6 linked regions of the Homo sapiens genome follow. The protein of the gene in region 5 purifies or fractionates together with the protein of the main gene of each other region. This does not show direct contact. Each region holds a gene or a part of one and is shown on either strand. Other genes may lie near its edges.

Evidence for each region.
Region 1: the proteins of DEK (region 5) and LRRFIP1 fractionate together in Homo sapiens (co-fractionation; one large-scale study listed by BioGRID). This does not show direct contact.
Region 2: the proteins of DEK (region 5) and PPP4R3A fractionate together in Homo sapiens (co-fractionation; one large-scale study listed by BioGRID). This does not show direct contact.
Region 3: the proteins of DEK (region 5) and TRMT10A fractionate together in Homo sapiens (co-fractionation; one large-scale study listed by BioGRID). This does not show direct contact.
Region 4: the proteins of DEK (region 5) and RNF170 purify together in Homo sapiens (affinity purification with western blotting; one study listed by BioGRID). This does not show direct contact.
Region 6: the proteins of DEK (region 5) and NR5A1 purify together in Homo sapiens (co-immunoprecipitation; one study listed by IntAct). This does not show direct contact.

What each region holds. Positions count from the first base shown.
Region 1 is NC_000002.12:237,749,001-237,754,138, reverse strand, and holds part of LRRFIP1 (leucine-rich repeat flightless-interacting protein 1), read right to left. Parts: intron 4,941-5,138; coding exon 4,815-4,940; intron 2,940-4,814; coding exon 2,868-2,939; intron 831-2,867; coding exon 660-830; intron 1-659.
Region 2 is NC_000014.9:91,470,673-91,475,810, reverse strand, and holds part of PPP4R3A (serine/threonine-protein phosphatase 4 regulatory subunit 3A), read left to right. Parts: intron 1-2,440; coding exon 2,441-2,572; intron 2,573-2,675; coding exon 2,676-2,778; intron 2,779-4,815; coding exon 4,816-4,974; intron 4,975-5,138. UniProt on the Homo sapiens protein: Regulatory subunit of serine/threonine-protein phosphatase 4. May regulate the activity of PPP4C at centrosomal microtubule organizing centers.
Region 3 is NC_000004.12:99,560,562-99,566,450, forward strand, and holds the start of TRMT10A (tRNA methyltransferase 10 homolog A), read right to left. Parts: upstream 3,479-5,889; 5' UTR 3,352-3,478; intron 3,163-3,351; exon of another isoform or gene 2,807-3,162; intron 1-2,806. UniProt on the Homo sapiens protein: S-adenosyl-L-methionine-dependent guanine N(1)-methyltransferase that catalyzes the formation of N(1)-methylguanine at position 9 (m1G9) in tRNAs. Probably not able to catalyze formation of N(1)-methyladenine at position 9 (m1A9) in tRNAs.
Region 4 is NC_000008.11:42,857,771-42,862,908, forward strand, and holds part of RNF170 (E3 ubiquitin-protein ligase RNF170), read right to left. Parts: intron 4,086-5,138; coding exon 3,975-4,085; intron 1-3,974. UniProt on the Homo sapiens protein: E3 ubiquitin-protein ligase that plays an essential role in stimulus-induced inositol 1,4,5-trisphosphate receptor type 1 (ITPR1) ubiquitination and degradation via the endoplasmic reticulum-associated degradation (ERAD) pathway.
Region 5 is NC_000006.12:18,246,879-18,252,016, reverse strand, and holds part of DEK (protein DEK), read left to right. Parts: intron 1-2,177; coding exon 2,178-2,366; intron 2,367-5,138. UniProt on the Homo sapiens protein: Involved in chromatin organization.
Region 6 is NC_000009.12:124,489,573-124,494,710, forward strand, and holds part of NR5A1 (steroidogenic factor 1), read right to left. Parts: intron 3,578-5,138; coding exon 3,458-3,577; intron 1,657-3,457; coding exon 1,509-1,656; intron 1-1,508. UniProt on the Homo sapiens protein: Transcriptional activator. Essential for sexual differentiation and formation of the primary steroidogenic tissues. Binds to the Ad4 site found in the promoter region of steroidogenic P450 genes such as CYP11A, CYP11B and CYP21B.

The sequences.
Region 1 (5,138 bases), on a different chromosome or scaffold from region 5:
GAAGCATCTGATCGCACCTTATCTGAGCATGGTGGCTCTTTCATAGGTATGTTTTTTCATGGTTTTGCTTTTAGCTTAGATGTTCTCCTAGAAAAACTGTCTCCAGTTTACATGTTGAAATTATACGTATCAATATTTCAAGTCACTTGGCAAAGAGTATGGTACTTTTATTCTCAGATGTTTGGATTTCCTGGATAAGCGGAGAGCCATTGTTTAAAAATATAAAAATACATAATGTAAATTATACATTATATATACATACATACACACGATATATCCACACATACATACATACATACACACACACACACACACACCCTACCATTCCCTTTTTTTTTTTTTTTTTTTGAGACAGTGTCTTCTCTGTTGCCCAAGCTGGAGTGCAGTGGTGTCAACACAGCTCACTGCAGCCTCAACCTTCCAGGCTCAAGTGATCCTCCCACCTCAGCTTCCCAAGTAGCTGGGACTACAGCCATGTACCACCTGGCTAATTGTTTTAATTCTTTTTAGAAATGATGTCTCGCCATGTTGCCCAGGCTGGTCTCGAACTCTTGGGCTCAAGTAATCCTCCCACCTTGGCCTCCCAAAGTACCAGAATTACAGGCATGGGCCACTGCACGCAGCCTATTGTTAACATTCTGTATCATACTAATGCTTACTTTGTTTTTCTCTTCGTACTGCCGCCTAGATTCAGCCAGCTGTTCTTCAAGCTCCAGCAACATATCTTTTAGGGTATCAACCTGGTACATGAAGTTTGTCTTTTCATTGTCTAGCTGAGCATTGGAAACCATAGCCTTCTTATATTTCTCTTCAACTTCTGCTAGAGAGTCCTGTGGAAAGCAGGTCATATTTTTGAAATTGCAATAAAAAAATCAAAACAAAGAATCATTCAGTATTCTGTTAAAAAAAAACCCTCAGTCCTAAACTTAGACTATATTTCTTAGAGCAAATGGATCAGAAGAAGAAACACATGGCAATTTCAAATGCATGGAAATCCCCCTTTTCAATTTGGTCAAATTCTCATTGCTCAGAAAATTCACTATTAAAAGCAATGGACACACTCATTAGAACAAACGAGATACCAGTATGGAAAGGGATGTGGTCACAGAGGCAGTAGAGTCTCTGGCCCCACTCAGTAGCTGGGGAATCCCCCCAGCACGGCGTCCTAGGGCTGGGTGTCAGGCTGTTCAACAGATTTCTGAAGAATCACTCGAGGCGTGTGACCAGCCCTTGTGAAAGAGCCAGTGTGTGATGGCTGAGATAATTACATAGGGCCACAAGCCAGTGACTGCCAACCAGCCCTACTCTGGCTTATGAACCAGGAAAGGAGCAGTAGTGAGTTCAGATTTTTGACTCATAGGAAAATGGCAGGCAGATCTCACTGGGTAGGTCCTGGAAAGACAAAGGTCATTCCCTTTGAAGGACAGTCCAGAGAAAGAGGCCTGTAAAATACGCATGGCGATGCCCTCACGTGCCTCACACCCTTGCAGGTCCCCAAACATGAGGAGGGGAAGGCGATTCCAAAACAGAGAGGCAGAACCTTCAGGGCGCATACATGCAGAGCTAAAGGCAGCGGCAAGAGCTGCCAGTTCAGGTGCAGCAGAGGCTACCAGGGGGCTGGAGGGACCAGTGCTGGTCTAGCTCTGTACCTCCACACCAGGACAGCTGCTTCACGTGGGACCAGCGGGTCTCCGGTTGGTTCAGTGGCTCCCCAGCAGCATTTTTTCTTTTTTGAAACAGTGTCTCGCTCTGTCACCCAGGCTGGAGTGCAGTGGCACGATCTCGGCTCACTGCAGCCTCCACCTGCCAGGTTCAAGTGATTCTCCTGACTCAGCCTCCCAAGTAGCTGGGATTACAGGTGCGCACCACCACACCTGGCTAATTTTTATATTTTTAGTAGAGACGGGGTCTCACCATGTTGGCCAGGCTGGTCTCAAACTCCTGACCTCCGGTGATCCACCCACCTCGGCCTCCCAAAGTGTGGAATTACAGGCGTGAGCCACCACGCCTGGCCAAGTGGCTCCTTTTCGCATGAATTGAAAGCCAGAGTCTTATTTTTCCCCCTTTCAGGAAAGGTGGCAGATATGAAGATAGTGAATTAGTCATGATCGATGTCACCTCCTCTGTCTGGTGCCCTTTGATATTAAATTCAAATGATCTTGCAGGTACTTTCTAGGGGGCTGAAAAGGAAGTAACAGATACGCCACCCACTTCCAGATCCATGATCCGCTGCTGCCTAAGGAAGACAGTCACTGATTGCCCACCTTACTGTCAAGGAACAGGGCAACCACATCTCCTGGCTGGTGCAATGAAGTCACTGCACACTCTAAAAGCAGTGTGCACACGCTCCAAGAAAGCCAATGCCATAGTCAGTCTTTACTTCAATTAGTAGCATTTTACAGGGTGCAAATAATTGGGATGTTTCAAAAGTGTGGCATGTGAGGACGGCCTTATTAGTAGACATCAGATATTTTGAGAAGCAAATCAACTGAAGCATTTTTGTATACAACTACTACAAAAAGTGAAGAAAACCAAGAACCTTCTTCAAGTGTCTGGCACACGCCTATGGGAAATGAGAAACTGGTTTTAAGCCTGGGGGAAGGATGGTAAGTCTAAGGCATGCATCAGGGAGTATGTTAGTAACCTTTTCTACTGGGCAGTTACATTTTCAATCTTGGTTCAAACAATGCATTTGGGAAAATGGTGAGTGTACACCCATGCCGGCACTCCTGCCATTGTGAGTTCTTCTACACCCTGGAGCCTATTTACAGTAAGCATGCACTTTGAATTTCTTCTTTAGGATGTTGTTTTTTTTTTTAAGTTAAGTTGGGTTAATATCGTGAGACCACACGTCTGTGAATTGGTACCTTCATCTCTTTCAATCCCTGCATGTATTTGCCTTCTACATCCTGAATCTGGTCCTTTAACTCATTGAGTTCCTGGGGGAAATGGCAAAAAAGGCAGATGATGTCAAGGGAAAACAGGTGATTCCCTAAATCTTTTATACTTCAGGGTAGTTTCTATTTGGGTAGTCTGAGCACCCAATTTTCTTTTTTATTTTATTAAGCGTTAAGGGAAAATAAACTTCAATATTTAAAGATTAAAGTTCAGGTGTATCCCATATGATATTTTTACATGATTTTATACAATTTTAGTGTATCTCATATGATTTTACACAGTTTAAAAAACAGACAAAATAGAGCCTCGGAAAACGGTACAGGTTATTTCAACTCCTATTTAGTAATTCATTCAAGCACTAGGAGTTCCTACTCTGTGCAATGTACAGTAAGATGCTAGAGGCAAAAATCAGTAGCACTTTTTCCCTGCATTTATGGAGCTCCAAGTCTCTACTTTGCCAAATTCCTGGTGCCGGGGACAGCATCTGGCACCAGCCAGCCTCTCAGTAAGTACCTGAACAAATGAACGGCACGCGCAACCTAAGGGCAGAGAAACATCAGGACTGCCGCCAACTCTGCTGCTCTGCTGTAGAAACGGAAACAACAGGCCAGGCGCAGCGGCTCACGCCTGGAATCCCAGCACTTTGGGAGGCCGAGTGGGTGGATCACCTGAGGTCAGGAGTTCAAGACCAGCCTGGCCAACATGGCGAAACCCCGTCTCCACTAAAAATACAAAAGTTAGCCGGGCATGGTGGCGGGCGCCTGTAATCCCAGCTACTCAGGAGGCTGAGGCTGGAGAATCACTTGAACCTGGGAGGTGGAGGTTGCAGTGAGCCGAGATCGTGCCATTGAACTCCAGCATGGGTGACAAAAGCAAAACTCTTGTCTCCAAAAAAAAAAAAAAAAAAAAAAAAAGAAAGAAAGAAAAGAAAAGAAAAAGGAAAAAAAAAGGGAAGCAACAAGGAGCTGCAGGTGGCCCAGGGGTGGCACATGGGAAATGGCTCTTCTGGTTTTGTAAACTTATAAAACATAGGTGTTGGAAGCATCTTCAAGGTAACCCTGGCCAAACTCTGGTGGATGCTTAAATCCCTCTCCGTCCTCCCTGGCAAACGGCCATCCAGCTGCTCAGACATCCCCAGTGGAAGTTGCTTCCCTTTTAAACCTAGTTTAAAGCACTAGAAAATTCAGAATCTGAGTCAGTTCTGGCTCCTTTCAGCTGCTTCTGTCTTGGTTCTGCTCCCTGGAGGACACAGGTCTAGTCACCTCACCTGCCCTTCCAGTCTTCAGGTTTTCAGATGCACTGTCCCTAGTTACTTTAACAAATAGCACCGTGTTTCTCTTTCACACACAGAATACTACCAAATGCCTGGCACTGTCCTGGGTGCTGAGGATAGAGCAGAGAATAATACCTACACTACAGTGGGATAAAAAAAATCATTAAAATACAAAGATGAGGGCTACTAAAGGCACATTACAAAGAGAAAGGAAAGGGCAAGTTCTAGGCCGAAGGGGAACATACTTAGTGGGGAGGGGTTGTGTGAAAGTAGGTAAAGCCGTCTGGTGTCCAAACTTGTGGACTGAATGTCTATGCAGACCAAGCATACAGAGACGACCAAGTGCATCAACACAACGTGCCAAGTGCTCTCACTAAGGTATTCCCCGGGTGCTGAGGGGCGCAGGGGGCCGGCACACGGTCCGCCCTGCTGGGGGGTCAGTGGGTAGGATCAGATTCCTGCAGGAGACACTATCTGAGCTGGGTCTTGATGTTAGGAGAACACCGTATTTTAGGGGAGGTGAGGGAGAGAGGACCAAGAAGAAAGATCCAGAACTTTATGAATTAACTTTTTTTTTTTTAATCTAAAGACTGATTTTTACAAAAGGTTCTCTCAAGTTGTCAGTAAGAAGAGAGCATCTCACCTTGATTTCCCTGATGGATGCCTCGGTGTCGATGGAGATGGAGGTGTCTCCGCTGCCTCTCCGAGAGGAAGTCCCACCCAGAGAGGCCAGCGTGGCTGCAGACAGGCCCGGCATGTTACGAGACCCCTGGAACGTTGAGAGGATCACATGCTGATATGGTTTAGCTCTGTGTCCCCACCCAAATCTCATCTGGAATTGTAATCCCCATAATCCCCACAAGATGAGGGACGGCCCTGGTGGGAGGAGACTGGATCACGGGGGCAGTTTCCCCCATGCTGTTCTCGTGATAGTGAGTGGGCTCCCAGGAGATCTGATGGCTTTGTG
Region 2 (5,138 bases), on a different chromosome or scaffold from region 5:
GTAAATATTATTTGTACTAATAGTAAGTATTTATACATAGGAAGCTATAACTGTTTTTATTATTCACTTTTAAGATTTAATTGTTGCTGTTTGGGAAAAGTGTAGCCATAATATCAGACAGCTTATTGTTCCCCTAAATTGGTTCCTGTCTCAGTTTATCAATTTGTCCTACAGCAACTATTTATGTTCATTTAAATTGCCTTTTAAAATATTCATGTCAGTTTTTTTTTGTTTTGTTTTGTTTTAATTCTGAAGTCAACTTGCTATATTGTGTTTTTTAAATCATTTAGTCAATCAATTCTTGTATCTGGGGAATTAAGAGTAAGTTACCTAGGAAAACATTGACTTTAGGGTAGATTCTCAAAATCGCCAAGAATGAAGAAATGTAGCACAGTCCCTTAAAATATGAAGGGTGCTGTTTCTTTACTGCCTAGCCATAGAGAACAAGCTGTTACGTTGTTCACAAACACTCACGTTAGCATCTGAGATATACCAGATTTTAAAGTAGTAGAGAATATATCCTGGTAATGTGAAGGGTGCGCCTGGATCACATAGTGCGTGACATGTGAGAGCACTAAATGTGTGTGCTCTCCTTTATTTTAAAATAATTGAACCAATGATTCTGATTTTTTCCTGCTTCCCCCATAACAATTTGGAAGCAACTTTTTACGTAAGAATGAGTAAGAAGGACCTGCTCTCAGGTCCTTCTTAAGGGAGGAGGGGAATAAAGATCCCCTAAGGAAAAAAAAAAAATCTGTTTAGAATTCCAGCCTGTGGTATTTTTACGAAATAGGAAAATAGACTGTCTTACTTTTTGAAAAGATCCTATTTAATGTATTGTGATGTCAAAAGGAAATGGAATGCCATGTAACTGCTATGTTTAAGTTTTTATTTTTATAGTGCAGGATAGGTGCAAAAAAGCACCAGTTTGAACTGTTGTGTCATGTTTTTCTTTTATAAAATATTAACATCGGCCTCAGCAACATAGCAAGACCCTCCTTTAGTACAAAATTAATTTTTAAAACTTAGATATGGTGGCATGCACCCATAGTCCCAGATACTCAGGAGGATGAGAAGGAAGAGTCTCTTAAGACCAGGAGTTTGACTCTGCAGTGAGCTATGATTGCTCCACTGCACTCCAGTCTGGGTGACGAAGCCAGACCCCATCTCAAAAAAAAAAAAAAATTCTTTGAGAACCAAAGTATCTGTATTATTGAAAATAAAGGCTATTGTTGGTCCCATTAACCCATGAGCTGAACATATGAACATGTATTGATATACCTCAAAATACACACAGTAGGACTCTTTTTTTTTCCTGTTTTGCAACAGAATAACATTTCAGTCACTAGGACTCTTGATTCCCACTCTTCTTAATCATCATTTCCATCTACTGTCTGCATTTTCTCTATCCCTTGTCCATCCTGCCTTTGCATACACATAGGCAAGAGCAGGGATTTTCTCACTGAATCCCTCTCAATCTTATTTACTACTTAGGTGAGGAATACCAGTCATAATAGGACCTCAGGAAAACCAGCCATCTCTTTTCTTTGATATTTAGAATGTGTATAATCCATTTGTTCTCTGCACTCTCTAAATACCATAGTCTCATTTTCTCCAATTTCAGACATTCAGATAATTTTTTCCTAAATTTATTTTAAAAGGAAATTTTATATCACTTTTACAAATGGAGAACATACATCACTGGCCATAAATAGAAGGACTCTATAATAATAAAAGCAATAGACCAGGCACGGTGGCTCACGCCTGTAATCCCAGCACTTTGGGAGGCTGAGGCAGGCGGATCACCTGAGGTAGGGAGTTCAAGACTAGCCTGACGATCATGGAGAAACCCCGTCTCTACTAAAAATACAAAATTAGCCGGGCATGGTGGTGCATGCCTGTAATCCCAGCTACTAGGGAGGCTGAGGCAGGAGAATCGCTTGAACCCGGGAGGTGGAGGTTAGTAAGACGAGATCGTGCCATTGCACTCCAGCCTGGGCAACAAGAGGCAAACTCCGTCTCAAAAAAATAAAATAAAAATAAAAGCAACGAAAGTATTATGATGTTCTAAATCCTACCTAAATATTCTTACTCTTAAAGCTATGGTCATAAAACCCACTGGCTTTCTTCAAAAGGTAGATTACATTATTAGAAAGTTGTAAAGATATATTATCACCAAACTAAAACTTTGCTTTTGCTTTATTCAGAGGAATTTAAAGATAATAGACAAGAAATTTCTATTTAGGGCTATGTCCCTGTACCACACTTTAGGGAATGAAACACTGTCATATGTCCTGTCAGATAACTGAGTTAAACATTTCACTTTGCAGTTAACAAAACAGCTAGAGCCTAGGTATAATGCTGTGGTATGTGTCTTAGTTTTTGCTTTTTCCGTTCTCTCATAATAAGTGATCCTGAGTATGTCTATTTTTCTCTCCAGGATATTTTGCTCATCAACCTCATTATAGAACATATGATTTGTGATACAGATCCTGAACTTGGAGGAGCAGTCCAGCTTATGGGCCTGCTTCGAACTTTAGTTGACCCAGAGAACATGCTAGCCACTGCCAATGTAAGCCATGAGCATTTCCCCTCTTTTTCATAGCTAGTATATTGTGTATTGCTGGTAGGAACCAGTGTGGTTAAAGTTCATGGAATTGTTCTTGTTTCCTTAGAAAACAGAAAAGACTGAATTTCTGGGTTTCTTCTACAAGCACTGTATGCATGTTCTCACTGCTCCTTTACTAGCAAATACAACAGAAGACAAACCTAGTAAAGGTAAGATAATTCAGGTTGGTAGTTAAGTTCTCTGTTCTTGAATGCTGAATTCAAAGTTGGTGTTAAGTCAGTCTTTTTAGGAGGCAGTTAGTGGGAGGTAGAGGCTGGGAGGACACACCTTTTAAAAAGTAGTAGTCTTTAAAAGTTCAAACCATCAGGTTAACATAGAGGTCTTAATAATTTGGTTGGTTGGTTGGTTGGTTGGTTGTTTTTATCAAAAGCAACCTGGAGAATTAATGATGTATTTTGAAAAGAAAGGTTCATGACAAAAATGTCCCTAAAAGGCCTGTAATCCCAGCACTTTGGGAGGCCAAGGCAAGCGGATCATGAGGTCAGGAGATCGAGACCATCCTGGCTAACACGGTGAAACCCCATCTCTACTAAAAAAATACAAAAAAAATTTAGCTGGGCGTGGTGGCAGGTGCCTTGTGGTCCCAGCTACTGGGGAGGCTGAGGCAGGAGAATGGCGTGAACCCAGGAGGCGGAGCTTGCAGTGAGCCGAGGTCGCCCCACTGCACTCCATCCAGCCTGGGCGACAGAGTGAGACTTCAACTCAAAAAAAAAAAAAAAAAAACAATTTTCCTGAAAGTACTGTAATCAGATAACAGAAACATGTAAAAGAAATAAGATAATTTTTTGTTGAACAATATTTGTATTCAGTTTGCATCTACACTGGTGAAATATAAATAGAAGGCAGTAGCTATGAAAAAATTCATTTTAAATTATTTGTACTCCAGATGTATAGACAGAGCTAGGATTTTTGCACAATATTAAGCTACTTTTATTTATATTGAAGATATGTTAAGGTTTGTTATTTTTGTATTATATTCATTAGAGCTTTAGCGTGCGTGTGCGTGTGTTTAATTTAGGAGGTAGTTTTAGGTCTACATTCAAAAATTGCTTATTTAAGCTTTAGGAGTAAATACATTATTTTGTCATTGGAATTTTTTTTTTTTTTTTTTTTTTTGGAGACAGAATCTTGCTCTGTTGCCCAGGCTGGAGTGTGGTGGCGGGATCTCGGCTCACTGCAACCTCTGCCTCCCAGGTTTGAGCAATTCTCCTGCCCCAGCCTTCTGAGTAACTGGGATTACAGGCACCTGCCACCATGCCTGGCTAATTTTTATATTTTTAGTAGAGGCAGGGTTTTCACCATGTTGGCCGGGCTGGTCTCAAACTCCTGGCCTCAAGTGATCTGCCCACCTTGGCCTCCCAAAGTGCTGGGATTATAGGTGTGAGCCACCACGCCCAGCCTTGAATTCTTAATATAGCATAATTATAGCACTCACATAAAACACAAGTTAAATTTACTTTTTGTGTAACTCCAGAATCAAGTCCATGAAATGTGAATGTCCATTTTTCTTACCTGCTTTATTCATATTAGGTAAAGCTTGAGGCTTCTTTCCAAACCACATGTTCTATTCCTCCAACCTTTATTAAGATGAGAACTCATTGTGATTTTGTGAAGGACTGTGTTATAATCTAAACGTGGGGGAATGAAAAAAAGCCTTTCAGAGGCTTGCTGCCTAGTGAGGAGTAAAGATAAGTCAATGATTATAATTCAGTATAGACTCGTTACAAGTAGTAAAGGAGGCACAAAACACACTGGAATCAAGGGAACAGGGAGAGAGAGTAATTGCACCAAAGATGACACGGTGTCTGGCAAAACCTCATATGCTATATCTGTTGGAGAACATGCTAAGGTACCTGGTAGAGGGTCCTTGAATTTTGGAATAAGGCAGATACTCTAGATTTGTATCATAACTCTGCCTTACTAACTTTTCCAACTTGGGTCTAGTTAGTTAATAGGCTCATAATGTGAAACAGTTTCTTATAGGGTTGTTAAAATTAAATAAAAAAAAGTAAAGCACCATTCCTGGCACATGTTAGGCGTTCAGTAAATGCTAATTTCCTCCTCCCTAAAGTTAATATATTTAGGTTAATAGAAGAGATTTTACTTGATTAGAATTTGAGTTCTTACATTTTAGAAGGAAAAATGTTAGTCATTAAATATAATTAGTTGTGTTTTGTTTCTTTTAGATGATTTTCAGACTGCCCAACTATTGGCACTTGTATTGGAATTGTTAACATTTTGTGTGGAGCACCATACCTACCACATAAAGAACTACATTATTAATAAGGATATCCTCCGGAGAGTGCTAGTTCTTATGGCCTCGAAGCATGCTTTCTTGGCATTATGTAAGTGTTAGAATTATTTATCATCTTTGTATATTGACATGTTGGTATTTTTTACATCTTATTGCCCAAATGAAAAGACCACTGATTACAGGTCAGGAGATCTAGGTCGTAATACTAGCTCTGCCACTGATTATGCAGGTTTGCCATGTTGAGCAGGTGTTTTT
Region 3 (5,889 bases), on a different chromosome or scaffold from region 5:
CTTGAATGCATTCATTAATTTTTTTAAAAAAAATCTAGAAAGTAAGGTAAGCATTCAATTTAAGAAACTGGAGGTGGGGAAACTGAATAAGCCTAAAAAGGCTAGATGGAAAAAAATTAAAAAATATGTATTTTGATCCCCTGGATCACTTTTATTTTCCTTTCTTGCAATACACAATACATTAAATAAAATTCAGCTATGCAGGTATCCAAAACGACACCGAGTGGAGGAAACTTAAAAGCACAATTAAAATTCACAGGAAACAAATTGCTCTCTTCATGAAATAATAATATTCCAAGAGAGTACATTTCTGTTTATCAGTGGCATCATTTTCAGTTAGTTCTCTATTTTATTCAAAAACGGCATGTGTTGATTAGCTCTATGTGAAGATTTTTTTTTTTTTTTTGGAGACAGAGTCTTGCTCTGTCACCCAGGCTGGAGTGCAGTGGCGCGATCTCCGTTCACTGCAACCTCCGCCCACTGCAACCTCCGCCTCCCAGGTTCAGGCGATTCTACTGCCTCAACCTTCTGAGTAACTGGGATTACAAGCGCGCGCCACCACGCCTGGCTAATTTTTGTATTTTTAGTAGAGAAGGGGTTTCGCCACGTTGGTCAGGCTGGTCTCGAACTCCTGACATCGTGATCCGCCTGCCTCGGCCTCCTGAAGTGCTGGGATTACAGGCGTGAATCACCAGGCCCGGCCTACGTGAAGACTTTTTAAAGAGCAATGTAATGTTTTACAGGTCATGTACACCAGGGGGAGCATATGCCTTTCCTATCTAAGAAGTCTTAAGTTAAATTTAATATGACCTGTCATAGTACATTAATGTTTCAATCTCTCAAACACAAGGAAAGGTCATGAGATGGTCAACATCTTCATCATCATCATCATCATCTTTTTAAAAACTATTCCTAACTAAGAAAACGACTGTACTAAGTGAAGTTTTTAGGCTTTAAATAAGCCAGGTGCACTGAGACAAATGGAATGCAACAAAAATGATGCTAACCTGATATCTTATAAATTATTCCGTATAGTATACTTTACAAAGATATCTACCAACTCGCACTGTCTACACTATACAATAAGTATAATGTATATCTACACTGCACTATGTACTAGCGTGTTCAGATTACCTGTTAAGCAAAACAGCATTTTATTAGGTATACTTGCTTTCTAATTGTTTTAGTTTGGGCAATAATTTATAAAATTCCATGGCAGAGTTTTTCATTCCTTTCTCACATGCAGTGATGCTCACAGTACATTTTCATTCATTCAACCAAGTTCAACAAATGTTCAAGAACGTATTTTACAGTAACTATAAAAATATTTGTGTGAGGTCGGGCGCAGTGGCTCATGCCTGTAATCCCAACACTTTGGGAGGCTGAGGTGGGCGGATCACCTGAGGTCAGGAGTTCAAGACCAACATGGCGATACCTCGTCTCTACTAAAAATACAAAAATTAGCCAGGCGTGGTAGTGGACGCCTGTAATTCCAGCTACTCGGGAGGCTGAGGCAGAAGAATCGCTTGAACCCGGGAGGCAGAGGTTGCAGTGTGCCATGATCGCAGCACTGCACTCCAACTAGGGCAACAGAGTAAGACTCCGTCTCCAAAAAAAAAAAAAAATTATATATATATATATGTGTGTGTGTGTGTGTGTGTGTGTGAAATTTTACTCCTGCATAAAATTTTAAAAATTTGTGGGGTTCATTCGCAGACATAGGTTATTAAGTGGGCTTACAAACTATCTCACTTTGTAAGGCAAGGACACATCCTACATCAATGAGCACCAAAAGAAAAAAAAAAGTTTTTTAAAACTGCATTAAGTTATGGATTGGGATAAAATAAATAATCGTCGTTAATTTATGACAGTCTCCTTTTCAGAAAAATCTCAACGAATGTGGGAATAATGCAGATTGGAATTAATGACTTGACAGCGATAGCAAAGGAATGCCTTTTTTTTTTTTTTTTTTTTTTTTTTTTGAGAGGGAGTCTTGCTAGGTCGCCCAGGCTGGAGTGCAGTGGCGCAATCTCGGCTCACTGCAACCTCTGCCTCCCGGGTTCAAGCGATTCTCCTGCCTCAGCCTCCCGAGTAGCTGGGACTACAGGTGCGCGCTACCACGCCCAGCTAATTTTTGTTATTTTTAGTAGAGACGGGGTTTCACCACGTTGGCCTGGATGGTCTCCATCTCTTGACCTCGTGATCCACCCGCCTCGGCTTCCCAAAGTGCTGGGATTACAGGCATGAGCCACTGCGCCCGGCCTTTCTTGTTTGTTTGAGACGGAGTTTCGCTCTTGTTGCCCAGGCTGGAGTGCAATGGCGCAATCTCGGCTGATTGCAACCTCCGCCTTCTGGGTTCAAGTAGTTCTCCTGCCTCAGCCCCCCCAGTAGCTGGGATTACTGGCATGCGCCACCACGCCCGGCTAATTTTGTATTTTCAGTAGAGACGGGGTTTCACCATGTTGGTCAGGCTGGTCCCGAACTCCTGACCTCAGGTGATCCACCCGCCTTGCCCTCCCGAAGTGCGGGGATTACAGACGTGAGTCACCGCGCCCGGCCAGGAATGCCCTTTTAAAAGACATGCGGACTAAACGTGGAGGAGCGAAAAGCCCTTTGTTCACTTCAGTTGTCAAGCCTTTTGGGCAGAGGGTTGGGAATGGAAGGGGCAGATGAAATTCTTTCAGAAAGTGACAAGTAATGTGTTGCCATCCTCTTCATATCTGTAGAAAAATTCCCAAATTTAAAGTATTTCAGTGAAATCAAGTAACACTTCGATCTTTATAAAACTGTCCTCAGCTCACAGCACCTGCAGCAACTTCCCCTCGGGCTCTCTACATTTCAGAGAGTTCAGCGACGTCAGCCCTTTGCAGGAAAAATGAGGTAAGGCAGCTTTAAAGAGGTAAAGCCCACGGTCTCTAGCCACGAAGTGGCAGGGCCATAACACGCTTTCCGGCCCTTTAGAGTACAGATTTCCCACTGATTCTTTGCAAACTCACTTTTCACATACTACGGGCCGATGGCAACCCCAAAACACACGCCGACGGAAAGCGCCCCACCACGGGGCGGAGCCTCGCCCACTATCCCTTCTAGGCTCCCAGCCAGCAAACGCATTTCAGAGACGGGATTAAGCTGTCTCTGGCGAACCAGGGAGCAGCTGGGTAGGCCGCGGGGGGCGCCTGTCATCGACGTCATTTCCTTCAGCAAGAGCGCCGCAGGAAACCACTTCCACACCACTGCTCCCCTCTCCCCCGGAAGCCCTTGTTGCTAGTAGGGGGCTGCATGGCACGCGCCCCTTTGCGTCCAGAGAATACCATAGTGCGGGGGAGCGCCAACCAGTGCCAGGACACTTACCGAGCTGAAGAGTTGACAGGGAAGTGAAATCTCAGAAAGAAAGCCTTTCTGGGTTGGCCTGGTTACGGCTCACGCTTCCTTCCACAGAAACTTCAATTCCCAGAGGCAGGGGCGGTAGTTACGCAGTGGAGGCTACGGCGGTTGCGTCTTACGTCATCGAACTGCGGCCATTTCGAACCCGCAATGGAAGAAAGGGGAGGGGTTTATGCGGGGCGGGGTCTGGAGTTAGTGTTTTGGGAGTGGGAGGTAGTTACAGTGATGTCTGTTTTTTCCCGTTCAAGAATTAAGTGTGTACCTGCAGACGTGTATTCATTCATATATTCTTGTGAGTATTGGATGAAGGAATTAAGATAGTCCCACTGTTAAAAATGCAAAACAACGAAGAAAGGCTCCTAATTTTTCTGTGTTGAAAATGAGAGAAAAACATCTCTTGCCTATATTATTTTTAATTTATACAGAAAATTACCATATCACATGATTTTACATAACTCAAGTGGAAAATTAAATTCAAAAAGTGAGTCAGATTCACAATAAAATGCATTTAAATTTAGAATCTGTAAGGCTTTTTTATGGCTGAAGTAAAACAGCCATAGCTTTACTCTTTATTCATTCCTTGAGCTATTTTTCCTATGCTGTTTTGCAAAACATCAGATGACATTTCATTGTTTATAATACTTGACCTTATATAATCTTTTGCTATATATAGATCATGTCAACTGAGAGAGAAATGAAATACAACCCCGTAGATTGTCATTTTCTATTTAGTTTTTTTCTCCTCTACTTCTAATAGGTGATTATTGCAGAATTTGAAGGTAAGAATGAGGTTTGCATCTTGAATAGAAGACTGGCTTCTCATATAGAAAGAATTTTGAAGTAAATTATCCTTGAAGATATTTGAACATGTTTAAAGGCTTCAGTGAATAGAAAATTAAATCCAGAATTTGAGATTCTCTAAAAGAGCCGAAATTTCTTTGACTTTAGTTACAAAACTAAAGTCACTCTTGCCATAAGCCCTTAAATTTTACTTGAAACACTGTATCAGCTATAACACTGTTGTGAGTCCCTCTTCTGTTTCTTCCTCATCTCAAACCTAAAAGATCTTTGTTAACTGAGCACTGGCAAAAAAGTCTGGATCCACTTCTGATCTGTTAGTAGGGCATCTTTTTTCAGCTGCCTCCATATGAGGGCAAAGAGTAGCTGAGGGAGGATTAGTAATTGGATATGTAGCCCTTCACATGTAGGTCATTAAATTCAGGCTGGCAAAGTGATGTGCCAAATCTTTCCACAGCTGTTCAGTTGCTCCTATGGGATCTGTTTTATAAATAATTATACAGTTTTTTCAGAGTTAATACCTGGCCTCCTTAGATATTTTAAACAAAGTTTTAAAGCAAAAAAAACCACTTCATATTCTAATAATGAAGTCAATAAATTTTCTTTTGACATAGACATTTAACTTTGTAGTCATTTGGTGCAAAATTTAAAATGATTCTATTATTAATCCAAAGTAAGCACCAAAAGAGCACCAGCAAAAGTCAATTTAACAAAAAATTGAAACATATAGAAAGTTTAAGACGGTGAAATCATGTGAAACAATATTTTCATTGATTTGTAAAATTTATGTATTTATTTATTTGACACATGTATCGAGTTCTATGCGTTTTGTCTTAGTATTGGTGATACAGAAATGACGAAATCATGCTCTCTGTGCTTAAGGAATCCTTAATCTAATAGGGGAGCCAGCAGTAAATAAATACCATACAACATGTACTTGAGATGCTTGTACTTTGAAAGAAGCAACTAAATGCTCCTTGAGGCAGAGGACATAGTTTTGGAGATTAAATAATTTTGTTTCATCTTGGAAAGTAAGTAGGAGTTGTACAGGTGTCAGAAAAGTGAAGAAGTTTAAGATATTGGGAACAGTGAAAGCAAAGACCTAAGCGTGTCATAGTTTTGCACATGACTGAAAAGCTGTGGATAGAATGAGGAAGAAGGAGGAGATAATAACCCTAAGGGCTTCTCTAACTTGGACAACTGTAGGAATGCAGTAACATTAACCGGGTCATTTAGGGAATACTGGAAGAAAAATAGGTTTTGAGGCCGGGCGTGGTGGCTCACGCCTGTAATCCCAGCACTTTGGGAGGCCTAGGCGGGCGGATCACGAGGTCAGGAGATCAAGACCACCCTGGCTAAAACAGTGAAACCCCGTCTCTGCTGAAAATACAAAAACTTAGCCGGGCGTGGTGGCGGGCGCCTGTAGTCCCGTCTACTCCGGAGGCTGAGGCAGGAGAATGGCGTGAACCCGGGAGGCGGAGCTTGCGGTGAGGCGAGATCCTGCCACTGCACTCCAGCCTGGGTGACAGAGTGATACTCCGTCTCAAAAAAAAGAAAAAAAAAAAAAAAAAGAAAAATAGGTTTTGAAAAAATAGTTTTGTTTTAAAATATGTGCATTCTGGGGAGTCTGCAGGACATCTGAGTAGAAACAGATTTTAAAAAGAATGAGCACATACTTGTAGTTTAAGCTAATATAAGAGGTTGGAC
Region 4 (5,138 bases), on a different chromosome or scaffold from region 5:
CACTGGTAATCCCAGCACTTTGGGAGGCCAAGGTGAGCAGATCGCTTGAAGCCAAGAGTTTTGAGATCAGCCTGGAAAGCAGGGTGAAACCCCGTCTCTACTAAAAATACAAAAATTAGCTGGGCATGGTGGCACACACCTGTAATCCCAGCTAGTCAGGTGGCTGAAATATGAGAACTGTTTGAACCCAGGAGACAGAGGTTGCAGTGAGCCGAGATCGCGCCATTGCATTCTGGCCTGGGCGACAGAGCGAGACTCTGTCTCAAAAAGAAAAGAAATGAAAAGAAAAATGTTAAATGACTTTATTAAAGTTTAGTGGTAGCTCTTAAATTTGAAACAGGTTGCATTTTTAAAGAACCATCCTACTGATGTCACCGGAGGATATGTAAAAAAAAAATTGCTGGGTCAAAATTGCAGAAGAGGCTCCCAAATAATTATGGAGGACAACATGATTGGATTAAGTTTTTTTTTTTCCTGCTCAATGAAAAATGGGTAAATCTACCCATTATCATCCATAACAGTTGAAATCTATGCCCTGAAATGTACACGACCTCACAGAACAAGGAACAATGGAGCATGAGCACATGTCTGTTTAACACTGAAGCATCTGAATAGCTTAATATATTCGGCTGGGAGCAGCAGTATCAATTCTTATCTTAACAGTAATTCATTTATTCAACACACATTAAGGCACCAAATTTGGCACTGTTGGAAACTCGGCAGTGGTAAATAAATAAAAATGGTCCTTACCCTTATGAAGCTTTTAGTTTACTGAGAGAAAGATAATGAACAAGAATTGAGTGCTGTCTATGATAAACGCCATGAAGGAAAGGTACAGAGGGCGCCACAGAGCAGGGAAAACTTCTCCAAGGAGGGTCTACTTAAGATAGTTGTCATTTAAAGACTGGGAAATCACCATAAGAGCAGAAGGACAAGCATTCCATGCAGAGGAAGTGTCAGGTGTGACAGCCTTAAGGTGGAAGGAGTTTGTGTGTGTGCTGAGAGCATAGAGCAGGGTGGCTGCAGGGTGGTGATTGAGGCGGTTAACAGAAATTTGGAGAGGGAGGGAGGACCAGATCATGTGGCGCCCTGTAAGCCACAGTAAGGAGTTGGAACATTCAAAGACATTGGGCCACAAGTGGTGGCTCATGCCTGTAATCCCACCACTTTGGGAGGCCGAGGTGGGAGGACCACTTGAGCCCAGGAGTTTGAGAACAGCCTGGCCAACATGGCGAAACCCCATCTCTACAAAAAATATAAAAATTAGCCGGGTTGTGGTGGCATGCACCTGTAGTCCCATCTACTTGGGAGGCTGAGGTGGGAGGAAGGCTTGAGCCCAGGAGGCAAACGTTGCAGCGAGCCAAGATTGCACCACCGCACTCGAGCCTGTCTCAAAACAAACAAACAAAATAGAAGTTTTCAAACACAAGAGCATCATGGTCTCATTTATGTCTAGAAAACATGTATCAGGCTGCTGTGGCAGGGAAAAAAGTAGAAGTGAGGAGGCCACTGTGGTTGCCGTGAGCAGAGATGACAGGGCTGGACCAGCACAATGTCTACAGTGATTGAAAGAAGTGGACACAGGCTGGGCACGGTGGCTCACACCTGTAATCCCAGCACTTTGGCAGTCTGAGGGGGTGGATTGCTTGAGCCCAGGAGTTCAAGGCCAGCCTGGGCAGCATGGCAAAACCCAGTCTCTATAAAAAATTAGCCGGGTGTGGTGATGCACCCCTGTGGTCCCAGCTACTTGGGAGGCTGAGGCGGCAGGATGGCCTGAGCTTGGAAGGTTGAGGCTGCAGTGAGCCGTGATCACACCACTGCACTCCAGCCTGGGAAAGAGTGAGAATCTGTCTCAAACAACAACAACAACACAGCCAAGACATTTTTGTTCTTTTTGAGACAAGGTCTCACTCGATCACCCAGGCTGGAGTGCAGTGATGTGATCCTGGCTCATTGCAACCTCTGCCTCCCGGGCTCAAGCAGTCCTCCCACCTCAGCCTCCCAAGTAGCTGAAACTACAGGTGCACACCACCGTGCCTGACTAATTTTTGTATTTTTTGGTAGAGACAAAGTCTTGCTAAGTTGCCCAGGCTGGTCTCAAACTCCTGAGCTCAAGTGATCTGCCTGCCTCAGTCTCCCAAAGTGCCAGGATTACAGGCATGAGCCACTGTGCCCAGCCAGCAAGAATATGTTGATGCAGTAAAAATAATAGGACACCCCAAAAATAGAAAGAAAAGGTAGGATTACTTATAGACCAGATGAGAGGAATGAAGAAGAGGAGGAAATCAAAACTGAGAAAAGAACAGACTATGTCAAGGAGGGAATCAGCTCAATACTCCACGTGTTAAGTTAGGGATGTCTGTGGAGCACCCACGCTGAAATGGAAGCGAAGCAGTTGGATCTACAGAGTCTGGAGCTCAGAGGAGAGGTCTGGGCTGTCCATATAAATTTGGATTTAGTACATTCTAGTTTTTGAAGTACTTATTCAGTTTTACATTTCTAAGAATGTGTTAGATTTTGATAAAACAAGAATGAGTCAGTAAAATGTGCTAGTTTTTGATTTATCAAATACTTCTAGGGTAAGGGGAAGAAAGGTTATCTGTACAGTGTTCTGCTTTTAAATAGCTAAGATGACATATAAACATATCCCTCCAAACTTTTTTTTTTCTGAGACGGGAGTCTCACTCTGTTGCCCAGGCTGGAGTGCAGTGGCGTGATCTCAGCTCACTGCAACCTCTGCCTCCCGGGTTCAAGTGATTCTCCTGCCTCAGCCTTCCAAGTAGCTGGGACTACAGGCACAAACCACCATACCCAGCTAATTTTTGTATTTTTAGTAGAGACAGGGTTTCACCATGTTGATCAGGCTGGTCTCAAACTCCCGAACTCAAATGATCTGCCCACCTCAGCCTCCCAAAGTGCTGGGATTACAGGTGTGAGCCACTGTGCCCGGCCTAAACCTGGAATTTTTTGGAGTTTCACTCTCGTCGCCCAGGCTGGAGTGCAGTGGCGTGATATCGGCTCACTGCAACCTCTGTCTGCCGGGTACAAGTGATTCTCCAGCCTCAGTCTCCCGAGTAGCTAGGATTACAGGTGCCTGCCACCACACTCAGCTAATTTTTGTATTTTTAGTAGAGACAGGGTTTCACCGTGTTGGCCAGGCTGGTCTCGAACTGCTGACCTCAGGTGATCCACCCGCCTCGGCCTCCCAAAGTGCTGGGATTACAGGCGTGAGCCACCGCCCCCAGCCAACCTGGAATTTTTTTAAGGGAACATTTCAAACAGGGCTAGGGCAAATAGAATAAACCACAACTGTGAAACTTAAAGTTTTCAGTTGTAACTTTTCTCAAAAGACAAATGGTGTTTTAGTATCACAAAGAAGTAAATAATTTTCTATTTCCCTCTAATTTTTTCTATTGCTTTTCTGCTAGTTTCTCTTTCATAAAAACTTTTATAATGCTGTTTGTTTTTTAAGAAAGAAAATTGTAGTCCTTGGGAAAGGTGTAATGTAGTGATTGGCAGCAATGAAGGTAAAAACTTGACCCAACACATATAATGAGATTTTTTTTTTTCTTTTTCTTTTCTTGTTTTTTGAGGAAGGGTCTCACTGCCACCCAGGTGGGAGTGCAATAGTGCGATCATGGCTCACTATAGCCTCAACCTCCTGGGCTCAGGTGATCCTCCCATTTCAGCCTCCCAAGAAGCAGGGACTACAGGCATGTGCCAACACTCTTGTCCAATTTTTTGGTGTTTTTTCTAGAGATGGGGTTTCATCATGTTTCCAAGGCTGGTCTCAAACTCCTGGGCTCAAGTGATCCACCTGCCTTGGCCTCCCAAAGTGCTAGGATTATAGGCGTTAGCTACTGTGCCTGGCCAAGATTTCTCATAGTCAAAGAATACTTGTTGGTAAACCTCACTTTACAAAAGAGAAGAAATGTGTCTTCCTCTAACTTTGAACATGCTTTAGCATTACTTACAGATCTGGGTTGCCCTGAGAATCTCCGGTTATAATCATTAATATCCTGATGCAATCTCAGAACATCCTGAGACTGATCATCTTCACCAAATACTGTTAGGAGTAAGGTTACCTGTATATTACAGAAAAAAAAATTATTTCAACTTTCTGCATCATTATGTTTTTTTCATTTTGTGTTATTATTCAATAGAATGATAAAGGCTTCTATATTTATATTTCACTCATTTTTAAATAAAGGCAACCTGGGGGAGGGGAGTAAGTAACTGCTTTGCAATAAAATCCAATGCAACATAGAATTTGAACTCCTATAAAATAGACACCATATCCAACTACTGGCCTAATATTTTCCTGTCCACACCAGGGGTAAATTCCTTAGTTCTCTATTTGGGCTAACAGATATTTGAAGATAAAAGAAGGATGAGGAAACATTCAGGAGGAAAGTGACATAAAATATATAACTGTCACTTTAAGACAGAAAAATTATGGTTTTCTTTTTCAGTATTAAAATAATGATTGGTTATTCTTACTGGTATTTGAAAGATCTTTGAATGCTACCAACCATAATATAAAGATTATGTTATTGCAGGGACCAGCTCTCAAACACCAATTCCTACTATAATAAAAAAAAGAAATTTTTGATATTGTCATATAACATAATACATTTAACCCTGCTTCCTTCATGGTTGTGGTAACAAGGATGTACAAATGTCCCAGGACCATACTGGGGTAATCTGACGGTGACAGTACCTTGAAAAATAAATACACTTTAGGACGTAGCACCCTTATAGAAAATGGTCACTAATGATTGTATGATGACATAAAAACGGGAAGGAGTGGTGGCCGATTTAGTTTTAAATCATTTAGTTGTTGTTTTGTCCTTCCTCAGTTCAGCTGTAAAACCAAGGCTTCCCACTGTTTAGATGCTTTCCAAACAGCTAAAAGAAGGCGTGACTAAGCACAGAAGGTGGTGAGAACAGCAGGTGCAGCCATCACTTCCTTCACAAATTTGTTAATAAAAATGCATTCTTTCAATACACATTAATGGAACACCTATGGCGGGCCAGGCACTCTGCTTAGTGCTAGGTATGCCAGAAAAATGAAGTCAAAAGCCTGCTCCAGGGTGACTACAACACCCACAAGGAAAGGGGAGGAAGACCTGGCCGAC
Region 5 (5,138 bases):
AGTATAGGAAAACTCTAAGGCATTTGTATATTACTACTTTTTGGATTTTGGTTTTAAAACTCCTCGTTTACTTTTGGGAATTGCATTTTTTTTTTTATTGGCTGCTTGAATAACTTAACATCTTTTCACTTTCCTGGATAGATTTATCCAGAACCTGTTTCAGTCCTCATACTAATAATTCGATATACAGATTACATCCTTGCTACCTGTGTCTGGTTTCTGAGCTGAGATTGTGAGGGATATTATGTTTTTCTAATACATTTGAGACCTGGAGATCATGTAACAAGTAGTAAGAGCTTGGACAGTGAGAGTTACCTTTTCTCCAAACGGTGCTATCAAAGAATTTATCCACATGGATTAAGGTTCTGATAATAGTTGTTAATGGTAGTATCTCACATAGCAAGGATATGTGTATGCATTCACGATTTCTTATAGAGAATCTTCTCTGAGAAATGTCTTTGATCCACCAACTTCAAGTTCCTGGAGTGACCTAATTTTGCTGTTTCCTAGTGTGCCTTTAGAAGGGTACGTTGTTGGAGCAATCTAGGTTATCCTGTGGTTTCTTTGCAGAGAGCTCAAGAGTACCATATTATACAAAGCAGCCACTTTTTCTTAATTTTTGTGTAGGTGACAGTGACCCCTAGACTGGAGGTTCCTGGGAGGTAAAGGACCTGTCGTTCTAGTCTCTGCAAGAAAAATATTGCCTAAAGTTATCACAAACATTTACACAATTGGATACCTTAAGGTTATGTTATGGAATTTTACCTTAATGTTTCTGCTTATTGCAGAAAATAAAGTAACAAAGGTAGAAATAAAAGAATATAAAAGATGCTCAATCCCAGAAATAAATATTAATTCTGTAATGCGCATTTTAACATTCTTGATGTTAGGTAATTTTATGGTTTTCAATTTTAGAATTTAGCAAAACTTCCTTGAGAAAGCACTTAAAAATTAAATTTATTGTTTACTGTAATCAACTCATTTTCATCAGGTGATCTCTGCTTTTAATATACATGGTTTAATTGATTATCAGAATAATAGCAGCATATTCTTAGTTTCATAATTAACATACTTATCATTTATTGTATACTTATAGGCATCAGTGATAATATGAGCCTGACATTGTTGAAAGTAGAGGCCAGAAGTAATGAATATAAACCGTATAGTTCATTCATAAATTCAGGATGTATAATTGGTAATAAAGTTATACATTTTTTTTATGGGCCAGGCGTGGTGGCTCATGCCTGTATCCCAGGACTTTGGGAGGCCAGGGTGGGTGGATCACTTGAGGTCAGGAGTTTGAGACCAGCCTGGCCAACATGGTGAAACACTGTCTCTACTAAAAATACAAAAATTAGCTGGGCGTGATGGTGCATACTTGTAATCCCAGCTACTGCACAACAGAATGAGACTCTGTCTCAAAAAAAAAAAAAAAAAAAAAAAAAAAAGGTTTTTCTCCCATTCCTTCGATTGGAGTGTTGGGCCTTCTAAAGCAAGGAGCTTCTTTGGCAGTGACAGTTTTTTGTTTTTTGCTTTTTGTGTTTTTTTGAGACGGAGTCTCACACTGTTGCCCAGGCTGGACTGCAGTGGCGCGATCTCGGCTCACTGCAAACTCTGCCTCCTGGGTTCACGCCTTTCTCCTGCCTCAGCCTCCCGAGTAGCTGGGGCTACAGGCGCCCGCCACCACGCCCGGCTAATTTTTTGTATTTTTAGTAGAGACGGGGTTTCACCGTGTTAGCCAGGATGGTCTCGATCTCCTGACCTCATGATCTGCCCGCCTCGGCGTCCCAAAGTGCTGGGTTGGCAGTGACAGTTTTAATGCTTGTAGGGATGAAATAAATTACAAATCTAACTTAAAATATTATCATGACAAAGTATTAACAGCCGTTGGAGCTTAACATAATGTGTCTTGAGCTTCTAGTCCCATGTCAGAACCTAGAATACATATTTCTCTACAATTGAGAAGGGTCTTGCTAGGTGTTTAGAACACAAATGGTATTAGTAACACAGTTTTAGGTTAACCTGACACGGTTAAAGATTATTCTCTGCAAAGCTGCTGGGCTTGTAAATACAATTTCTTGAGAGAGGAATAAGAAATTGAGTTGATAAGTTTTCAAGAAGAGAATTGATTGAAATATTATACCTCATTGGTGTTATCTTTATAAATTTTTATGCAGCCATTGCCGAAATCTAAAAAAACTTGTAGCAAAGGCAGTAAAAAGGAACGGAACAGTTCTGGAATGGCAAGGAAGGCTAAGCGAACCAAATGTCCTGAAATTCTGTCAGATGAATCTAGTAGTGATGAAGATGAAAAGAAAAACAAGGAAGAGTCTTCAGATGATGAAGATAAAGAAAGTGAAGAGGAGGTAAAATATTTTACTATATTTTTAAATCATTTCTTTCCATGGGGAGAGTTAAATATTTCTGCTATAAGGTACAGCCAGAAAACACTTCCTTATTGGTTGTTTTTAATTCTGAAGATGCAGAAATGATTAAGTATGAACCCATTTCTTTTCCTTAAAGAGCTTTTAGTTTCATTACCATGTCAGAGTATGAGTCAGAAAAGAGTGAGGTTGGTGTGGACTGGATTTGAAGTGGGCCTTGAGCTGGACGTTGAAGACTAGAGTAGATAAATGGGAAGGGAAGCGGAAGTGGTGCATATCCTGAATAGGACCACATAGGAGCAGATTCTTCGAGGATTTTTTTCGTAATATATTGATACTTTATAATTGACTTGGATCATTTTATTTTACGGAAAAAGCAAGGGACTTAAGGGCCTTTTTCCCCCCCTCAACCTTTAGGGGACTATGTAGTGAGAATAAACAGCATTTGAAGTTTATATAATGAGTGGATAAATTTTGTATTACCTGTCATTTTCTTTTATTTGGGAGTATTTGTAAAAGTTGAGACTCTTAGTTTCCAAAGTGAAACTTCATGAAGAAGAGAACTGCTGAAGCAGTTAAATAAGAGGGTTAACCTCTTCAGTCAGGTAGATCATGGAGAGTGGGTACAGGAGATGGGTTTCTATTATTGTTAATGATGTTTTGGTAGACTGTATTTTAACTTTGATGTTTTCGTTCAAAGGTTGGAACTTGCTCTATAGATTGGGTAATCAACCTTGCCTTATTTAGGGACTTGGATAATGTCAACTTGACATTTTGGACCAGATGATTCTTAATTGTGGGTGATATTCCCAAGCTCCCCTTGTGACAACCAAAAATGTTCTTCAGACATTGTCAAATGTCCCTGGGGCGAGACAAGGAGGGAATCATCTCCACTGAATTAGAAGGAATAAAGATATAGTGAACTCTGGTATTATATGATATGTGTGGGTGTTTAGTATGTATGTTTGTCTTGAGTTATTTACAATTCATGCTTGTTTTAGCGTCAAATTTTATAAAGACTTCTATAAAGCTAAGTATGAAATGCTTCATCATTTAAGAAAGAGGGTTACGAATCTAGTAGGTGCTTCATAAATATCTTAATATATATTTGGCACAAAGGAAAATAAGTAATCTGAGCATTAAGGTCTTTATGGATTGGATATCCGGGAGGAAAACATGTTTGTTTGTATGTATATATATAACAGTGGAAATTTTTAAACTGATAGTATCTTCATTCAGGAAATATTTGGTGTCTACTGTGTGCCATTCAGATTCCTAAACTCTCTTTATGGGCAGAGTTAAAGCACGAAACATTATCATAGAATATAAATGTCTAATTTTTTCATAGAGACGTTAGCATGGGCTCTGGAAACTGAGTTCAAATCTGACCTCTATATTGGATTATTACTGTATTAGTATAAGCAAGTTATTTAAACTATACCTCAGTTTCCCATCTGTAAAATGGGGAGTGATAATAGTATTAGCCTCATAGGGTCATATTAAAGGATTTTATTTAAAATACTTAGAGCGGTGCCTGGTGCATATAGTATGTAAGTATTAGTTGCTATTATTATTAGAATTAAAATGATGTTTTATGACAAGTAAAACTTCTAAATCGAATCTTCTTGTCATTACTAGGTGCAGGTTAAAAAGTGAGGGCAGGCCGGGCATGGTGACCCATGCCTGTAATCCCAGCACTTTGGGAGGCCGAGGTGGGTGGATCACCTGAGGTCAGGAGTTCGAGACCAGCCTCACCAACATGGTGAAACCCTGCCTCTACTAAAAATACAAAATTAGCTGGGCGTGGTGGTGCATGCCGATAATCCCAGCTACTCGGGAAGGCTGAGGCAGGAGAATTGCTTGAACCGGGGAGGCAGAGGTTGCAGTGAGCTGAGATCGCACCATTGTTCTCCAGCCTGAGCAACGAGCGAAACTCCGTCTCAAAAAAAAAAAACGAGAGCATTTTATACTCACTTTTAAAATTCGCTTTCTAAATTGTTGTCCCATAGTTCTGTAGAGGTAGTTGAACTTGGTGTATGCAGATGATACCTGATTTATACCCATATTGGTTCCAGGATAATAATCACAAGTGGAACCATCTCACTATAAATCAAACCTTTACCTTCTGTAGTGCCCTAATCTAGGGTCTGTGACTAGAAACCCAGGTCAATTGATGAAAATCCATGGGAGAAGAAAATGTAAAAATGCTTTCAGACATTAGGTGTATGAAATCACACAATATAAAAGCTATATCATATTTTATTAGAGGGATTTTTTTGCTACCTTTGCTAGTACTTGACAGATTTTATAAAATGTAAAATAAAATTTGGACTGAGAAATTGTTTCCCCCCCTTTTTTTTCCCTGATAAATGTCTCTCCAACAAGCATTGTTGCTTTAAATTTAGCACTGTCTTCAGCTTTTTATTGCTGATTCAGTTTCTGTGAAAGGCCTTTGAAAGGTAAGTTCTGGCAGGAGGAACAGTGTATCTGTGGCAACTTTGTTTTTCCTTATTCCATTTTATGAAGACTCAGTTCTAAATGTCAGCCATGTTAGGAACTTCATAAATGGAGCTATTTTTGGTCATTACTATGGAAGGACCTCTTTTCTAAGAAGCCATAAAGAAAAGTTGCAAGTTAGTCACAGAAGTTTTGGATTGCCTGTAGATTTCTTTATGATAGGAAATTAGTGAGTTAATATTCTGTTTATTTTCTGACACAGATTTTTCTTTGATAAATAAAAGACTCTTATTCATT
Region 6 (5,138 bases), on a different chromosome or scaffold from region 5:
CATCTGTGACTCTATCCTGTGCCAGTCTGCTGAGCCTGGCAGGCTGCGGGGAAGGTGCCGTTGCGGGCAGAGGTAGGAGGGAGCTTCCCCAGCTGCAGCCAACCGAGCCTGGGTCCCTGAGGCTCCTGTAAGGATTTCAGGCCACAGCTCCTAACTGGCTGCCCAAGATCCTACCCGCCCCCCACCCCAATGGCTGTCCCCTGCTGACCCCTGCAGAGCCCCGGCTGGTGTCCTGAGAGGTGGCTTAAGGTGGCCTTGCAGATAAGCCCTCCAGTTACCAGCCTGTTCTGCCAGAATCGGGAGACCCAGCCCACTGCACCCAGCCACATGGCATGGAGGATGTCACCAATCCCACCCAAGCACTGGGCTTCCCACTTTTCGTTAATCCCCTCTGCCTCCACAACACTCCCCACTCCCCACTCCTCCCTCTCTCTGGCAGGCATGCCCCTCGCAGACTGTGACTATAATGCCAGCCACCAAGACAATACCTTAATCCTGCCCCCTCTCCAGGTGATGAAGCACTCACTCATCTCTATCCCATCCCACCTGCATCACTGCAAAATAATTCATTCCCCCAGAAAACTCCTACTCATCCTCCAAAACCCTGCTCAGATGCCCCTCTTCCAGGAAGCCTTCCAGAAAGAGCTCTGCTCCCCACCCAGGGTTCCCTAAGCCACACCCATCTCTCTGTCTCAGCCCTAACCACCCAGGCTGTAGGTCTTTTCACGATTGGCAAGGGACAGCTATGTCCTCAGCATCTCTGGGCATGGGGAGGGCATTTGTGATGGCTTTCCAGGGAGTGAGGGTGCAGACTGGAGTGGCCCAGGCAGGGTTGGGGTCAGGAGGGCAACGGGAAGGAGACCCCCCAAGTGCTTGGGGAGTGAGGTGGGTGGCCGGGCTGGGCTGGGCCAGGCCTGCTCTCTGCCTCTCCTCTGCTTTCTTTTCCTCCTTAGCACTGGTCACAACCTTCCTGGCTATGCCTGCCTAATCGTGTTAGGAACCTACGTCTTACTAATCATATTATGCTCATGATCTGTCTCCCCTAGAGAAGGTCAGTACCACAAGGGCTGGGCTTGGGGGGTTTTTGCTCACAGCGGTATTCCCAGTGCCTTCTCCAGTGCAATTTCTCGGTGCCTGTTTGTAGAGTCAATGAATGGATGCACGTGTGCATGAGCAAAGGGGTCCAGGCCCCCAGGAGGTACAGTCAAAATTGGGGCCCCCTAGATCCAGGGATTAGAGAAAACAGGGACCCCAGGATGGGAGCCTGGAATAAAAATCCTAAAGTCACATGGGCCACCAGAGCGGGAGCAGCCCCCATTTAAGAGCCAGGCCCTGGCCGGGGGCCCTCAGACCTTTGTTCACTGAATGAGTAAGGGAGGGGTCCTTTCTCCCCGAGGCTCCTTCGTGGCCACTCTGGCCACAGCAGGGCTACCTCTCCAGCCTCACCCACCCTCCCACCCACCCGCCTCTGGCTGTCTCCACCTCTCTGTCACTGGAGCTGCACTCACCCAGGCTGAAGAGGATGATGAACTTGAGGCAGACAAACTCCTGCCGGTCCAGCTGCAGCGCAAGCAGCTGCAGCACCAGCTCCTGCGCCCGCAACACCAGGCTGTGCAGCAGCGAGCCCGCCTGGGTGGCCACTGTGGTCAGCTCCACCTGGGGGCAGAGGGCACGGGGCGGGGGACAGTCAGAGGACGTGGGTCCGGGCAGGTGGCTCTCTGATGGGGGATGCAGGGCTGAGGGCATGGATTGGAGGTGCAGGTCAGATGGGCTGGCGTCAGGAGGGCCCAGCCTTGGTGCCGAGCCAGGCACGGGTAACATCTGCACAGCCCCGGGGACGCTGCCGGGCCCACCCTTCCGAGCTCTCCTCAACCCGCCAAGCCCGGAGCTGAGGCACCCACGTTCTGCCCGCGTCCACCCCTCCTTCACACACAAACCCCAGCACCAGGCCCAGCAGCACCAGCAGCTCAGGGGGCCCCTCTACATGCTGGGAGGGGAGGGGTTGGGGAGGGCAGGCCTGTGTGGGGACACACAGACACATCCACATGGCTTCCCAGAGCCCCCATGTTCACACCTACACGCTGGGTCACAGCTCAGCTCAGAGTCACACACACACACACACGAGCACAGTCATGGGGTCGCCCACTCTGTGAAGTGAAGGCACACACGTGTGCACACGGCCACACCCGCCCTTGTACGCTCACACTCACGGCAACACATACACCCATGTATGTGATCACATTTACGGGTTGATGGGAAGACAGTGACACCCACACACTGATGTGTGTGGAGATTTTGCACAATAAAACACAGGCAGGCACACACACACACACACACAAACAGGCATTCCCATGGCCACAGAGACTCAGCCAGCCTGCGGACACCCACACTTCATGCAGACTGCAGGCACCTGCGCTCACAGGGAGCCCCAAAGACACCCCCCTGGGACCAGTGCTGCCCGTCCCGTCCTCCTGCCCCGATGGCCTGTGACACCGAGGAGAGAGCTGGAGATGAGCAGTGGGGGCCTGGGAGGGCTGGAGCTGGGAGCAGAGTCTGTCTTCCCCACCCCACAGCACCCACCGACCCCACGGCCCTTCCTGTGTCCCCACCTGAGAGTGGCACTCCTGCCAGCAGGCTGGACCCTGGCCATCAACCCCCTTCTCTGCCTCCCCCCCTCCCTCTCTTTCCCTACAGCCCATCTCTCCAGGTGAGTCTTCCTCCGTGGCTGTGCCCCCGTGTCCCCACCCTGGCCCCCCACCTCCCATCCTGACCCCTCCGCCTGCCTCCTCAGATACCACCTGGCCATGTCCCTCCTCCTCCTAAAGCTCTCCCCGGACCCCTGCTGCATCTGGACTTTCTACTCCCCAGATCCTCATTCCCTGCTCTAAGGGGGCCCAAATTCCGACTCTGAGCTCTCTGGAGCCCTTTGCCCATTCATTCATTCATTCATTCATTCGAGATTTAGGGCCTGCAAGGTTTGCCTGCTAAGCCAGCACTAGCAACCCCCTAGCCTCCCTCATCTCTCACCTCATGCCACCCCCACACCGGCACCAGCAGGGCCCGGGGGCTCCACACTTCCACCCTCTCTGAGCCTGCGGTAGACGTGGGGACTGCCCCCCTCATCCCTCATTCCCCAGCCAACTCCAGTGTGTTATTTCCAGACCCAGGGCCACCATCACCTCCTCCTCCATGAGCCTCTCCTCACCATGCCCACACCCCCTGAGCTGCTCCCCAAGAGCAGGGCTCCCAGGGGCCGGCGCCTCTCAAGCCTGGGCCAGGGCTGCTCACAGAGGGTTTGGGCCAGTGGGTGTTCCATGAACGTGGGGAAAGGGCTGATAATTAGGGTGCCCAGAGCCAGCCCCGAGAGGCCTGGGTCCTCCTCTCCGGGGCCCTGAATCCTGGAAGTGCACAGCGGGGCCAGGGCGGGGCCCAGGGGCGGGGCCGAGGGACTGGTCACCTCCTGCCCGGTGACCAGCAGGATGCTGCCCTCCTTGCCGTGCTGGACCTGGCGGTAGATGTGGTCGAACACCAGCAGCTCGCTCCAGCAGTTCTGCAGCAGCGTCATCTGGTCGGCCACCTGGAAGGAAGAGGCACGCGGGGGGCCGGGCTCCAGCCAGGGTCCAGGGACCTTCCTCTCACCCCTTCTCCTCCCACTGAGACCCAACTAGGCGTGCAGCCTGGGCAAGCTAACCTCTCTGTGCCCATCTACCCAGATGTCTAGGCTATCAAAGTGCAACAGAGGTCTGGCCAGTTAACAAAGGGATGTTTGGGGGTTGAATGGGCCAGGCTTCAGGCCCCACCTCTGTCTTTTGTATGACTTTACGTAAGTCCTGGTAACCTTTCTGTGCCTCAGTTTTCTCATCTGTAAAGTGGGCAAAGTACTGAGCGGACAGTCCAGTACATGTTAGGTATGCCATACATGTTAGTGACTAATGTCCATGCAGGTGCTCTGCAAAGGACTCCTACAAATGCCTGGCAAGGTTATTATTAATTTTAACCTTGTCCACATTTAAAAGCCTGTGGTCGGTCACACCTCTGGCAGCCCCAACTGCTCAAACAGGAGCCATGAGGGAGAAACCAAGGGCTTCCCCCCCGGGCCTACGCAGAGCTCTCAGGCTCAGGAGGAGGAGGGAGGTCCCACCTGGCCTGAGGTCAGGCCCAGGGCATGAGCAGGGGGGCGGCAATGGCCTGGCACATGAAGCAGAAACGAACAGCAACAAGGGGCTGATTCCGAATGCCCAGGCTGCGGCCAGAGACACTCGGTGCAGGGGCAGGGCCAGCCCCTGTTTGGAGTGTCCTTTGACTCTGCAGGACTCAGAAGCAGAGCCAGGGATCCCCTGGCCCCAATCCCTATTTTTCAGCTGAGGAATCCGCCACCCGGAAAGGGCAAGAGACTCTCCCGGGATCACACAGAGGCAGGGCCAGGCCAGGGCCACGGCTGGCATTCCCGGTCCACAATCTCCACTGTGACAAAACGAGCCCTTCTGGGTATTTGGAAGCACACTGGGCACTGCAGATGGGCCTGGGCAGACACAGCCCCATCCCTCTCAGCCCGTGCCACTCACCAGCTGGCCACCATCGACCCAAAAGACACTTCTGGCGCACCTTCCTGGGCCGTGCCCTATGGCAAATGCAAACCATGACAGCTGACAGTCATTCCACTGCAGCCCTACAGCCCTGCGAGTTTCGTATAGTCGCCACCCACATGATAGAGAGAAGAAACTGAACAGAGAGGCCACACAGCTCTGTCTAGTTCCAGATTTGCGCTCTTAACCACTAGGTGTGGAAGAGGACCTCTCACTCACCCTCCTTGCCATCCAGGAGTTCCTGGTCTCTCACAGGCTCCTTGCCTCCTCTACAGATCCTCTACCTGATCCCTCTCCTTCCTCGAGGCCCTCTCCACCCTCTGGATGCAGAATCTGCAACATCTCATGGCATCAGTTAAATGCCTCTGTCTTCACCAATACCTGTGAGGTCTGGGGAGGCAGAACTGGTGTTCAGCTCTTCTCTGGGCCCCAGAGCAGTGGTCAGAGGGGCTGATGACTGGCAAGGTGCTCCCCAAGACAAGCACAGAGAGCAGAGGGACCACTGCCCACCTGGGGCCAGAGACACAGAGAGGCCACTCCCCACCTGGGGCC